3 separate regions of the Homo sapiens genome follow, and regions 1 and 2 are each linked to region 3. The links come from fine-mapping of genetic effects on gene expression. A gene starts in region 3. Each other region holds a variant in brackets. All regions are shown on one strand. Distances are from middle to middle. Region 1 overlaps MRTFB (myocardin related transcription factor B). Region 2 overlaps MRTFB (myocardin related transcription factor B). Region 3 holds the start of MRTFB (myocardin related transcription factor B).

Evidence for each region. PIP is the estimated chance that this variant, and not a neighbour inherited with it, causes the effect.
Region 1: its variant is the best candidate, but not a certain one, in a credible set for the expression of MRTFB in unexposed skin (GTEx, PIP 0.72).
Region 2: its variant is the best candidate, but not a certain one, in a credible set for the expression of MRTFB in tibial nerve (GTEx, PIP 0.76).

Annotation. Positions count from the first base shown.
Region 1 is chr16:14,238,623-14,242,867 of GRCh38, forward strand. It overlaps MRTFB (myocardin related transcription factor B), which reads left to right. Exons shown (of 17, transcript NM_001308142.2): 10 at 1,615-1,862. Among named protein-coding and RNA genes, the nearest start is that of TRT-CGT2-1, 45 kb to the right of the region's middle. The variant C/T (reference allele first, on the strand shown) is at 2,047.
Region 2 is chr16:14,099,066-14,103,310 of GRCh38, forward strand. The region is part of intron 2 of MRTFB (myocardin related transcription factor B); the gene reads left to right. Among named protein-coding and RNA genes, the nearest start is that of MRTFB, 30 kb to the left of the region's middle. The variant G/A (reference allele first, on the strand shown) is at 2,196.
Region 3 is chr16:14,068,902-14,073,146 of GRCh38, forward strand. It overlaps MRTFB (myocardin related transcription factor B), which reads left to right and starts at 2,418. Exons shown (of 17, transcript NM_001308142.2): 1 at 2,418-2,464. RefSeq lists silencers at 2,193-2,662, 2,803-2,882.

The DNA.
Region 1 (4,245 bases), 170 kb after region 3:
ACCAGAATGTTAGAAGGATTGTACATGTGGATATTAAAATCATCAAGAACAGTCACTAAAGTTATGTTGAAGAAAGTAAAGAGCATTGGGATTGTCATATGTGTCGTAGAAGTCAGTAAAGAACTAGGAGGCCAGGTCCTGATGCTCAAGTCTGAAAGCATGAGATGAGATTAACAACCAATCATTTCCAATACATAATTACTTTTTATAAATTCTTATTTACCAGTGTTTAAAAATAGGCTCCTAGTTAATTGGATTATATTATGTCCAGTAGTATGCCGGTAAATGTTTAATAACTGGCTGGGCTCAGAGGGCAGATTATAGCCTTTGCCAATTCCCATGGTGTAAATATTCCCACAGTGGCCAGTTTCAGGCTACCGGTGTGATATTGCTGAATGCACAATTGGGAGAAACAGCACACGTTTGGTTCTCATGAGTAAGAGCTGGCTCCAGCACCCCGCTGGCTATGTCCGTAAACTGTTATGTAAAAATGGCCATAAAAATCTTGTTGCAGAATCATTCTTTTATACCAGGGATTTAAGAATTCATGACATGTCAGATGAAGAGAGAAAGGCACATTTCTAATAAGCATATATGGTATCATCCCAATTATATTAAAACATATCCAAAGGAAGGATATAAACAAGAATGTTAATAGTCACATTCTATGAATGTTAGAATAGCCTAACATTAGAAATGAGACTATTCCTAACCTGCAGAATGCAGTGAGTTTTGTTTTATTCTTCTTTGGTTGCAGTGTCCTAATTCTTTGGATATGAATATAGATAATGTGATCATATCAATAGCTCCATTTAATTGAGTACTTCTCAAAGTCTTTGTATTAAGTTGGGTATGTTCCCTACAGAAGCTTAGCAATACTTTCGTATATTTTCTTTTTTGTTTGTTTGGATGGGTTTTTTTCAGATGACGCTATCTTAGAATCTGAATACTGAAAAGTATAAAGTGATCTGATAACTTAAAAACTGAGAAGACAACAAGACCTCAGGAAAACATCATCTGATTCCTAATCTTGAGATGAGGGATACATGGTCTCACATCCCAGTTTCAAAGGAAAAATGTAGTATTTGAAAAATTTTCAAATTCATGTTCATATCATTCAGTATTTGTTTTTGTATTATATTGCTTAAAGATAGTTTATATTGTTTTCTTCTCATTGGAAGCATTTTTTCATTTTTACATATTCTCCACAGAATTTTTAGGTATTACATGGTTTTGGTGAAGTATACTTAACCTTTTCCCATTGTATATTTAGCATGCAGCTTGTTTTTTACTAGGAGATTGTATGTGTAAGCACTTGGTAGTGTGTTCACACGGGAGACCCAAGGTCAGCGTGCATTGAGTTTGAACAGCTCATGCTGAGCATCTTGCCCATACCCTGAGGGAACAGTGCAGCAGGAGAAAATTTATTGGTCAAAGTTAATATGCAAACGTTTTCATGGCTTTTGAAACGAATTTAGCATATTGCTTTCCAAAGTGGCTGTACCCGTATCTAAGGTACATTTCTTTTTAATTTCAAATCATTTAGTCACGCAGTACAAAAGATTTTATGTGGTGACATCTCTTTAAATGTTATTTTCTTTTTCTCAAAAATAGCAAAGCCATCCCAAGAATCCAAATGACAAACACCGTAGCAAAAAGTGCAAAGATCCCAAACCACGGGTAAAGAAGTTAAAGTACCACCAATACATTCCACCAGATCAGAAGGGTGAGAAGAATGAGCCGCAGATGGACTCTAACTACGCCCGCCTGCTCCAGCAGCAGCAGCTGTTCCTGCAACTGCAGATCCTGAGTCAGCAGAAGCAGCACTACAACTACCAGACCATCCTGCCTGCACCATTCAAGTACGGCGGGGCCCATGCTATCCTCAACGCGGGGTTTTCTGTGGTTTTTTATGAGGAACTATAAGTTACCAAAAGTTGAATGTTGTCATTTATTTGTGCTCAGTAATGATTTTCATTTCTTTGTTATCAGAGCTTATCACACAGTGTCTGAAGTCCACATGGTGAGAGTGGCCTGCATTCCATT[C/T]CAGTTTCTGTCCTCCAAAATAGGTTCTGAATTTTTACAAGTTAGAAATGCCTTTTCACAATTATTCATCCAGATTTGCCTATTATTAGAACACCAAAATAGTACTAGATGCTCTGAGAAAAGCGTAAGTAGTATAATACCTGGCATAAACAGCTAAAAGAAGAGAAGGATGGGCATGAAAGCTGGAGTGGTCAAAGGAAAGCCTGGTGGAAAAGACAGGATCTTTGTATATAGAAGGCTCGAGAAGGGCCTTTCCAGGCACAGGGGAATGCTGTGAGCACTAGTACAGAGGAAGGAATAGAGTAAGTAGTGCCTCTTCATTGGAAGGTGAGAAAAATTGCCTAAACAAAGAATCTGATTAATTTTTAAGTAAAAAGTGGAAGACAAAAATCGAGTACAGCCAATGTCTAAGGGGACTTGAAGCTGGGCAGAAGACCTTACTCAACACAGCAGATAGACAACGGAGTGCTTCAGAGCAGGCTGCTGACGCAGTGAGGCCAAAATATAAGAAAAAACAGCTGGATGCTGGTGTTGAAGGGACGTCTGGAGACAATGAAGAGCTCTGGCAGCAGAGTGAGTGTTTCAGAAGACAGTTAAAGGCCTTGGTGACGAACAACTGCGGAGAAGGAAGGTGTTTTCAAAGTTTGAACCCAACTGTGGGGGACGGAAGGGAGTGAATTCTGACAATTTCTGAAACTGAATTCACAGCAAGACATCAATGGCTAATTTTAATTACGTAATAAAGAAAATTTCTGGATATACATTCCCAATATGCTTTTTCTGGGAAACAGAGATAAAAATGCAAAGATCTTGTCTTCATTTTCCTCACTTTTCATGAAAAAGAAATATTTGCATTTAACTCTAGAAAGAGATGCAAAAGCTCATTATAATGAAAAATTATTAGCCATGATCAGGTTATTCAACTTATGATTATACGACCTGTAGAAACTTCTGCTTTCTACATGTCGCGTAAGCATTCCCTCATAGGTAGCCCCTCTTTTCCCTCTTAAGATTCAAATATCTTGAGGAAGATTAAACCTATTAGTAATTCAGACCTGATTGTGAAGTACTTAAATCTAAAACATCAGGGCATGGAGATGAAGAGAGAAAGAACTTTGTATCCAGTTACTATTTTAAGAGCAGGCAGGCCCGAGTGAGCTATTGACATTGGAAGGGAATCAGGGGATACCAAAGAGAATTGGAAGAGAATCACAGACAAGCTGCTGCTACTTTGCAGCTTTGTCCAGGCCTTAGGGAGGCCTCCTCCACTGCCATCCTCCTTTGGCATTGGGCACCAATAATAATAATAATAATAATAATAATAATAATAATAATAATAATAATGGTAATGATGTCTCACAGTTACTACTTACAATGCGTTGTGCTTAAAACCGTGCATCATCCTCATCCTCGCCTCAAGTCTAGGAGGAATTGCTGTTATTGACCCCATTCCCAGATGAGGACGCTGTTATAAAAAAAAATCCTTTGGGATTTTCACCTTATCTTTGAAACAGTCTTTTCTGTAATGAAAGAATTTGGCTGTGCGACTGGCTTTGTAGATAGGAAGAATCCATCAGAGGTGTGGGCTTGCTGAACTGTTACCAGTTCTTTGTCTTTCCATTAAGGCTTCAATTCCCCTCTCCTCCTCAGACATTCAGCACCTCTACAATAACCAAGCTCACCCAAGAATAGTATCATACAAAAAGACCCAGGATATTAGAAGGAGAAAGAACACTTATTTTTGTGTATTATTTAACCACAAAAAGAATATAAGTCCTGTTCAATTTCCAGATCCTAAAAATGGAGGCCTTGTTTCCTAACGCATTGTTTATATTTATCAAAATTCCATTACAAGAAACTGAATGTGGAAGTCATAGAGTGCCCATAGTGGTGGGAGTTTACCTGAATCATGTAGCCCTTTGCCACCACAAAGGAGCAAGCGCCCAAAGGGACTAGGCTTTAGTCCAGCCCAGCTTGTCTGCACAATGGGAGGTCACTGGAGGTCCCCGAAGGCCACTGCATCCCTCTGAACGCAGGTCTCTCATCTGCCGATCACATTCGTTAGCAACCTCTCTCTTTTTTCTCCCCTCTATTGATTTGGGAGAAAAATAGATTAACATGTTTCTGTTATTTTAAAGATTGAGTAAAATACCAAACTGTTCATTTTAATAGGTAGAGTATTATAGAATCTCAACAGGA
Region 2 (4,245 bases), 30 kb after region 3:
GCATATCCATTTGGAGTTTAGAATCAGCTTTTCAAGTTATACAAAACAGCCTGCTGGGATTTTTGACTGAGATATTGATAGTCAGTTTGGAGAGAATTGACTTCTTAACAACATTAAGTCTGGGTCTTCCAAACCAAGAACATGTTATTTCTCTCAATTTATTTATATTTTTTAAAATTTCTCTAGGCAGTGTTTTTAAAGTAGAGATCTTACACATCTTTTGTCAGATTTATTCTAAATATTTTGTATTTTTTGGTGTTATTAAAATAGTATTTTTTAAATTTTCAATATAAAATTACGTGGGTTTTTTTGGTGGGTTTTTTTTTTTTTTTAAGACAGAGGGTCTGTCACCCAGGCTGGAGTGCAGTGGTGTAATCTCAGCTCACTGCAACCTCCGCCTCCTTGGCTCAAGTGGTCCTCCTAAGAAGCTGGAACCACAGGTGCATACCACCATGTCCGGCTAATTTTTTTGTATTTTTTGTAGAGACAGGGTTTCACCCTGTTGGCCTGACTGGTCAAGTGATCTATCTACCTCGGCCTTCCAAAATGCTAGGATTACAAGTGTGAGTCACCATGCCCAGCCGTATTCTGCATCTTTTCTTTTCTTTTTTTTTTTTTTTGAGACAGAGTCTCACTGTGTCGTCCAGGCTGGAGTGCAGTGGCACGATCTCGGCTCACTGCAGCCTCCGCCTCCTTGGTTCCAGCAATTCTCCTGCCTCAGCCTCCCAGGTAGCTGGGATTACAGGCACACACCACCACGCCCAGCTAATTTTTGTATTTTTAGTAGAGATGGGATTTCACTGTGTTGGCCAGGCTGGTCTCGAACTCCTGACCTCAGGTGAACCCACCTCGGACTCCCAAAGTGCTAGGATTACAGGTGTGAGCTGCTGTGCCCAGCCATTCTGCATCTTTTCTATACTCACTACTAGCTTTTTTTGTAGAGTTTATTGGATTTTCATAATCATGTTATTTTTAAACGAAGACAGTTTTACTTCTTCCTTTCTAATCTGAGTGCCTGTTACTTATTTTTCTTGCCTTATTGAACGAGCAGAACCTCTAGCAGAGCCTGTGTAATGTTGAATAGAAATGTAAAAGTGGACATGCTTGTCTTGTTCCTCATATTAAAGGGAAAACACTAAGTCTTATTATTAAGTGTGATGTTAGCTATAGGTTTATTGTGGACTCCTTTATCAGGTTGAGGATGTTCTCTTCTATTCCTAGTTTGCTGAGAGTTTTTAATCAGGAATGGATGTTGGATTTTGTTAGATATTTTTGAGCATCTATTGAGATAATCATATGGTTGTTATTTTTTAATTCGTTAATAGGGTGAATTGTATTGTGTATCGCATGGTAAACCAGCCTTACATTCCTAGGATAAACCCCATTTGGTCATGTACCTTTTCTTATGTGTTGAATTTAATTTGTTAAAATTTTGTTTAGAATTTTTATATCTCTGCTCATGAGGGACATAAGAGCCTCTTCTAGTGTCTTTGGTTTTGGTATCAAGTTAATGCTGGCCTAATAGAACAAGATGGGGAGGATTTTCTCCTGTTCAATTTTATGAAAGAATTTAGATAGAATTGGTATTACATTTTTCCTTAAACATCTGCTAGAATTCACCAGTGAAGCTATTTGGATCTAATGTTTTCTTTGAGAGATTTTAAACTACAAATTCAATTTTTAAAATAGATCTGTGGTTATTCAGGTTATTTATTTCTTCTTGAGTGAGTTTAGTAGTATCTTTCAAGGAATTTGTCCATTTCATCTAAGTTGTTGAATTTATTGGCTTAAAGTTTTTCATAATATTCCCCTATTAGCATAGAATCTATGATGACGTTGCCTCTCTCACTCCTGATATTGGTAATCTGTGTCTTCTCTCTTTTTTCCTGATCAGTCCAACTGGAGGTTTATCAATTTTATTTACCTTCTCAAAGAACCAGCTTTTGGTTTATTGATTTTTCTCGATTTTTTTGTTTTCTGTTTCATTGATTTTTCTGCTCTTTTCTTCACTGCTTTCTCTTTTCTGCTTACTCTCTCTGTGGGTACACATAATTATGTAGGGTTTTTTTTTTTTTTTGCTAAGTTTTTCTGATTTTAAGGGTAAAGTGTAGTTCATTTCAGATGCTGATTTGAGCTGTTTCCTCTCTAAGACATATAAGATATTGAGGCTCAGAGAAGTTAAGACACAAAGTTAA[G/A]ATATATAGCCTATGTCCTTTTTCTTATAGTGTAATAACTATGGTAGAAGCAAGTAGAGGTGCAGAGGGAATACACAGAATAGTGCTTAGCTTGTGAGGAGTGGCATGAGGAGAGCCCCTTGGAGAAGTTGGTGTCTCAGGTATCGTATTTTGGTGAATTCTATGGATAAATCTATCAGACCAAACCCAAATTATTAGTTCTTAAAGTTTATTTTACATTGACTACACATCTCCTTCTTGGTTGCTGTATTGTGAAAAATGAGTTAGAATATGCCAGGAGTAATTTTGCACACAGCTGATGTTCCTTTGGGTTTGATTGACAAATCTACTTTCAATTTCTATTAACACTGTTTGTGGTGGTCATGGTAACTGTAGCTGTAATAGTTTTGGCAAGTGTTGCTGACAAGATTCTGTTGAAGAGGAGGAAAACTTGGGGGTAGAGTGAGGTGAGATTATTATAAAGATCTACATCAGTATCCCACTGAAAACTTAGGGTCACTTAGTAACAGGTATTTCTCCAATAAACTATTCCTTGTTTAAGACAAGTTCTGAGTTTTTTTAAAAAAGGATTTTCATCATTAAAAAGGCATAGAATTCTATGATTTTTTAAATAAGTGGAGTGAAACCAGCCTAATGTAATAACATCTTCTCAGTGTCCCTATTAGAAAGTTTGAGTTCCTCTCCAATTTAAATCAAGGTACTATATTTAGGTATTTTGAAAAATACATAACAGCTGTTTGCTGAGAGGCACTAATGGGACTGGTGGTCAATTGTAGGGAAGAAACAAAAGGAGAAAAATAGAGGAGTTATTTTCAAATGGCCATGAGGGCAGAGGGTTTGTGTGTATTATTTTAGTTTCTCTTTAAAGAAAAATAAAGTGCAACCTGAGTCTTTTTAAAAAAAAAAAAAGAAATTGTGGTTGAAAGAGCAAGCTGCTCCTTTGATAGTTTGATTTTCAAAGTTAAAACTTAATTTTGTAGAGGAGAAAACAGCAAGTGGGCTAAGCAGCTAGTTTTGTGACAGTGCAAGAACCAGAATCCAGACTCTTGAGTCAGGAAACTGGGTTCTAATCCTGACTCTTAATCACGGGCTTAACGTCGCCTCTTCATTGGTAAAGTGGAGATGATAATGATACCTTTCTTCCAGTTGGGGGTGAAATGACAAAATGTGTTGAGTTATCACTCGTACATGTTTAATATTTTGGGTAGGGAACCATTTTCCCCCCTCTCAAGGACTCAAGAAAATAATTAAGGGTCATATACAGATAAGAAGATATTTACTTTAGAGTTTTTGTGTTTTCTAGAGTAAATTCAACTCACCCACCACATCTACGTTTAGACTTACAGATATTATTTATTCTAATTAAACAAATGCAACTGAATTTCCATGTGTTTATACTTGCTTTAAAAACTGTTAGCTCTTCAGTGTTAAAGATTGGCTCTTTAGTTTCATTTGTTCTCAAACTTTCTGTGTCCAGCAAACAATGCAGTATGTTAAAACATGGTATTATTTCTCTTGTTACATGCCTTGGAGTTTAATAATATTCACATAGTATGTGTGTCTGCCTTTTTCCCTTTCATGGTAGGTACTTTAGAATGTGCAGTTTTCTCTATCTGGGGGCATGCTGTTGCATTAGCTTTAAGGTGAAAGGAGAAGGTGAAGTAGAGCATGTTGAGTGATACAAAGTCTTGGAGTAGAGAGACCATTTGTATATCAGCTCCCTTTGCCAGGAGTGCCCTCTCTTTCTTCCACATCTGCCTCTACTTTACAATCTTATTCTTTGAGACTCAGCTCCAGCACTTACTTCCTCTGGGATCCCTTTGCTGATCCTTGGCCAGTTGTGTTAAAACCCCTCCCTCTGCACACCTCCTTGCTTTCACAGCACTTTGCTCTCATCTAATATTCTTTACCACACTATGTTGTGATGTCTGTTTTCTTGTCTGGCTTCCTTACTTACCTTAAAGTCAGGGAATAGATCTTACTCATCTCCATATCCCAGCACCCAGCAAAACTCCTGATCAAAGGTGCTCAGGGAAATTTTATTGAATAG
Region 3 (4,245 bases):
CTTCCGGAGCCAGGACACTATCTTCTCCTGTCCCTCGACACCAGAACTCCAGATTCTCCAGCTTTTTTTTTTTTTTTTTTTTTTTTTTTGAGACAGTCTCACTTGATGCCCAGGCTGGAGTTCAATAATGCAATCTCAGCTCAGTGCAACCTCCTCTTCCCAGGTTCAAGCGATTCTCCTGCCTCAGCCTCCCCAGTAGCTGGGATTACAGGCACCCATCACCACACCTGGCTAATTTTTGTATTTGTAGTAGAGAACGGGGTTTCACCATGTTGGCCAGGCTGGTCTTGAACTCCTGACCTCAGGTGATCCACCTGCGTCAGCCTCCCAAAGTGCTGGGATTACAGGCATGAGCCACTGCGCCCAGCCCAGGTTCTCCAGCTTTGGACTCTAGGACTCGCTCCAGTGGCTCCCAAGTTCTCAGGCCTGTAGCCTCGAACTGAGAGTTACACCATCAGATTCCCTGGTTCTCGGGCCACAACTGCGACTGAGCTATGTCACCAGTTTCCCTGGCTTTCCAGTTTGGAGATGGCACATCGTAGGACTTCTCAGCTGCCATCATACATCCCCTCTTATGAATCTATATAGTTTTTTCTTTTTTAGAGACAGGGTCTCACTCTGTTGTCCAGACTGGAGGGCAGTGGCACAGTCAGAGCTCACTGCAGCCTCGACTCCTGGGCTCAAGAGATCCTCTCACATCAGCCTCCAGAGTAACTGGAACTCCAGGCATGTGCCACCATGCCCAATTCTTTTTATTTTTTGTAGAGACGGGGTCTCACTGTGTTACCCAGGCTGGTCTAAAACTCCTAGGCTCAAGTGATCCTCCTGACTGGACCTCCTAAGGTGCTGGGATTACAGGAATGAGCAACCTTGCCCAGCCTACATCTATCTAGAACCTAGTAGCTGTGTTTCTCTGGAGAACCCTAATACAGGGTTGTTGGGAGGGCTAAATAAATTAATAAATAGACAGCACCTGGAGCAGGGCTCAGCACTTTGTAGCTGCCCAGCAGGTGTGATTTTCCTTCTTCACCCACTTCCTCCATCTGGTGAGTTGAGTGAGGTTGAAACATGCAAGGGCACCCACATGCTCTGGCCTGTACACAGCAATTGGTTCCGGGGAGAGTGGACAGGTTTGGAGCATGGGCAGGCCAGCACTTGCTGACATTGATGTGATTATCAGGTGGGCTGGGTAAGCCCATGCAGACGCTGTTGCAGGTGGAAGGCTACCTAGAACCTCCAGGGCTCCTGATCTTACAGCAGCCGGCCCAGATGAGCTAGCTCATGCTCGCTTGCTTGCAGAACAGGACCTACCTACAAGGTAGTGCTGGGCTCCGGACTCAGACCCAGGTTCAAATCCTATTTCACAATGGAAACAGGCTACTTTCTCCACCTCCAGGATTGCAAGAAGATTGGTATGACCTTGATATGCCCGCAATAAATGTTAGCCCTTCCTCTTTACAAACAATTATTATTTCATTAAGACTTACTCCTGGGAAGAAGTCACACTTTTCTGTGTGCTAACATCATGTACATTCTGATTCTCTGTCCTGTGTGCCATTCCATCATGCTCTCTACCAGCAAAACGCCACCAGTCTAAGGAGGAGACAGAACCGCATAAAAATAGTCACACAGTCTTCAGAGCTGCACAGGGAGTGGCACAGGGGCTTCACAGGCCTTGGGAAGTTTGTAAAGTGAGGGAGAAGCACTTTACTGTCGCCAGCTCCATTGAAAACAGATTGTAGCAAATGACTTCCCAGGAGCTCCTCCTCTCACCTTGGTGAATGTTGGGAGAGAATGAAGACTGCGGCTGAGAGGCAGCGCCTTGAGCCTTGAACGGAAAGAGGGACAGGGCCTGGGGGCTGTCACTGAGGTGCAGAAATGGGTTTTGGGCTGGGCATCAGACAACCCCAGATCCCAACACTGGCTCAGCCAATTCCTGGCTGTGTGACATGGAGCCATTACTGTACTTTCCTTGCCAGGCCTCCATTTTTCCTCTCTCTAGAATGGGGAGGCTGGTAATACCCACTTTGGAGGGCAGTGTGAGGACCGAAGGGGGCTGTTAAGTGCTCGGCGCGCAGCGAGCACTCAGGACGGGTGGCAGCGGTCACCTTTGTCGCCACCGTCCAAGCCTTTGCAGAGGCTCAGGGCCGAGCCCCGGACATGCGCATGCGCACGCGCACCCGGCCGGCCAGGTGAGAAGGAGGCGGCCGCCTCGCACCTGGGCTTTAACCCTTCCCAGTCACGGGAGTGGGCGGAGTGCACGCAGGGACGGAGTCGGGGGCGAGCAGCGAGAGAGGCCGGGCTTGACCCTTGAGGCGGGGTGGGCAGCGTCCGGGGAGCGCGCCGAGCCGCTTCTAGCCTGGGGTCCGCGCGCGCCGCGGGGAGGAGGGGGAGTGCCGAGGGGAGCGAAGTCTCGCGAGATCGCGCGGCGGCGGCGGGAGCGGCGGCGGCGGCGGCCGGGGAGGTGAGCGGCGGGCGGTGGCGGCCGTTGGGGGCTGAGGCCGGGTGAGAGCGGCCGAGACCGAGGGCTGGGTGGGGGAGCGGGCCTGGTGAACATCCCGCGTCCCAGGCAGCCATCCCTGTTCGTCCCCGCAGCAGCTGCGGCGCCGTTTGGTCCGCACCGTCCCCGGGACTCGCGCGGGGCGGGGCGGCCGGGGCCGCGGGCCGGTGCCTCCTTCAACCGGTCCTCGCGCCCGGGCGCGACCCCGGGGCCGCCTCAGTGTCCATCTCGACTGCAGAGTTGGCCCTGCTGACAGTGGCAGCGGCGTTTATGGAGCCTCTGCTGTGTGCCGGGCACTTAAGTTGCGCGCTTGCACGCCGGGGCTGCACAGAGAGGTGGAGCGCCCGGGCCAGAGCCACACTGCGAGGAGGCGGTGGGAGGGGACCGGGACCCCTGCGCCCCCTTCCTCTTCCCACCTCCCACTCCCCTCAGCCCTTTTCTCCTGGGGTCCCGACCAGGCTTCAGAGGGGGTGTCTGGGAGCGCCCTGAAGTTGGATGCAGCTTGGTATATGGGTTTCTTGGGAGAGAGTTTTTCCAGGGCTTTTGTCTCGTTCCTAAAAGGGTCCCCGATCCCCAAGTGGTCAAGAACCATTGTTTGGCCCTGCTTGGAAGCAGAGGTGGGCTGAGAGCAGCGGGCGTGTGCTGGTAGTGGGGTGTCAGGCCCAATGAAGTGGAATATTGGAGCCCAGGGCTTGCCTTAGGCAAAGGAAACTCTTCTCTAAAAGTTCGATTTTTGTTTCAGCACGCGATTCCACTCTTGGGAACAGTGGTTCTCAACCTCGTCAGAATCAAGGTCCCTTCTTCCCCTTTGCAGCAAACATGTATAAAGCCCTCTTTACTACCCTGAAATGAAATTCATAAACAATGTGACCTCCCTACACACATCCTTGAAAAGCAGTATGATGGTTTGATTGAAGCGTAAGGGCGAAATAGAGAACAGTATATGACAGATGTTGCTGTACCATTCACATCTAGGACATACTCTTGTGCTGGAAGACAGTATATACTGGGGTGCTTGTGCCAGCTTCTAATGAGTACATTTGTATTGGTTAAAAAAAATTAGGAGGAGCTATTTCAAACAAGAGCAAGCCTGGGCAATATAGCGAGATCCCACCTGTACAAAAAAAGAAAAAATTAGCGTGGTGTGGTGGCGCACACCTGTAGTCTCAGCTGCTTGGGAGGCTGAGGTGAGGGGATCTCTTGAGCCCAGGAGTTAAAGGCTGCAGTGAGCTGTGATTGCACCACTGCCCTCCAGCCTGGGCTACAGAGTGAGGCCGCTACTTCAGGGAAAGAGCAGAGATACAGACGGAGGTTGGGAAAAACACCTAGGTTGGCATAACCTGTTTCTTGCGAATTAAAGAGAGAAACAACCTAGATTGAACTAGGGATAACATGGCAAGACAAATAACAGACTGTCTCAATAAATACGTAAATATTAGCACAAGCCCTCCATGGATCCATATTTTTAAACTATATTGTAGAATTTTTTGTGTCACACACTCGAAGGGACAATACTGGCTTCCTAACAATTACCATTGGTAATAATTAATAAAATATTAACAAGGTTGAAAATTTTTGGTTCAATATCAGTATCTCACTTGTTTGTATATGCTCAGTATTCTGATACTACAATTGTATGTTAACGGTGTGTGGTGTGAGGAAACGATCGCTAATGTTTAGACAGTTTTCCCTTACTCTATTTAAGCTTCCCTTGCTACTTTCTCCTACATTACTGGAGTTTCCCT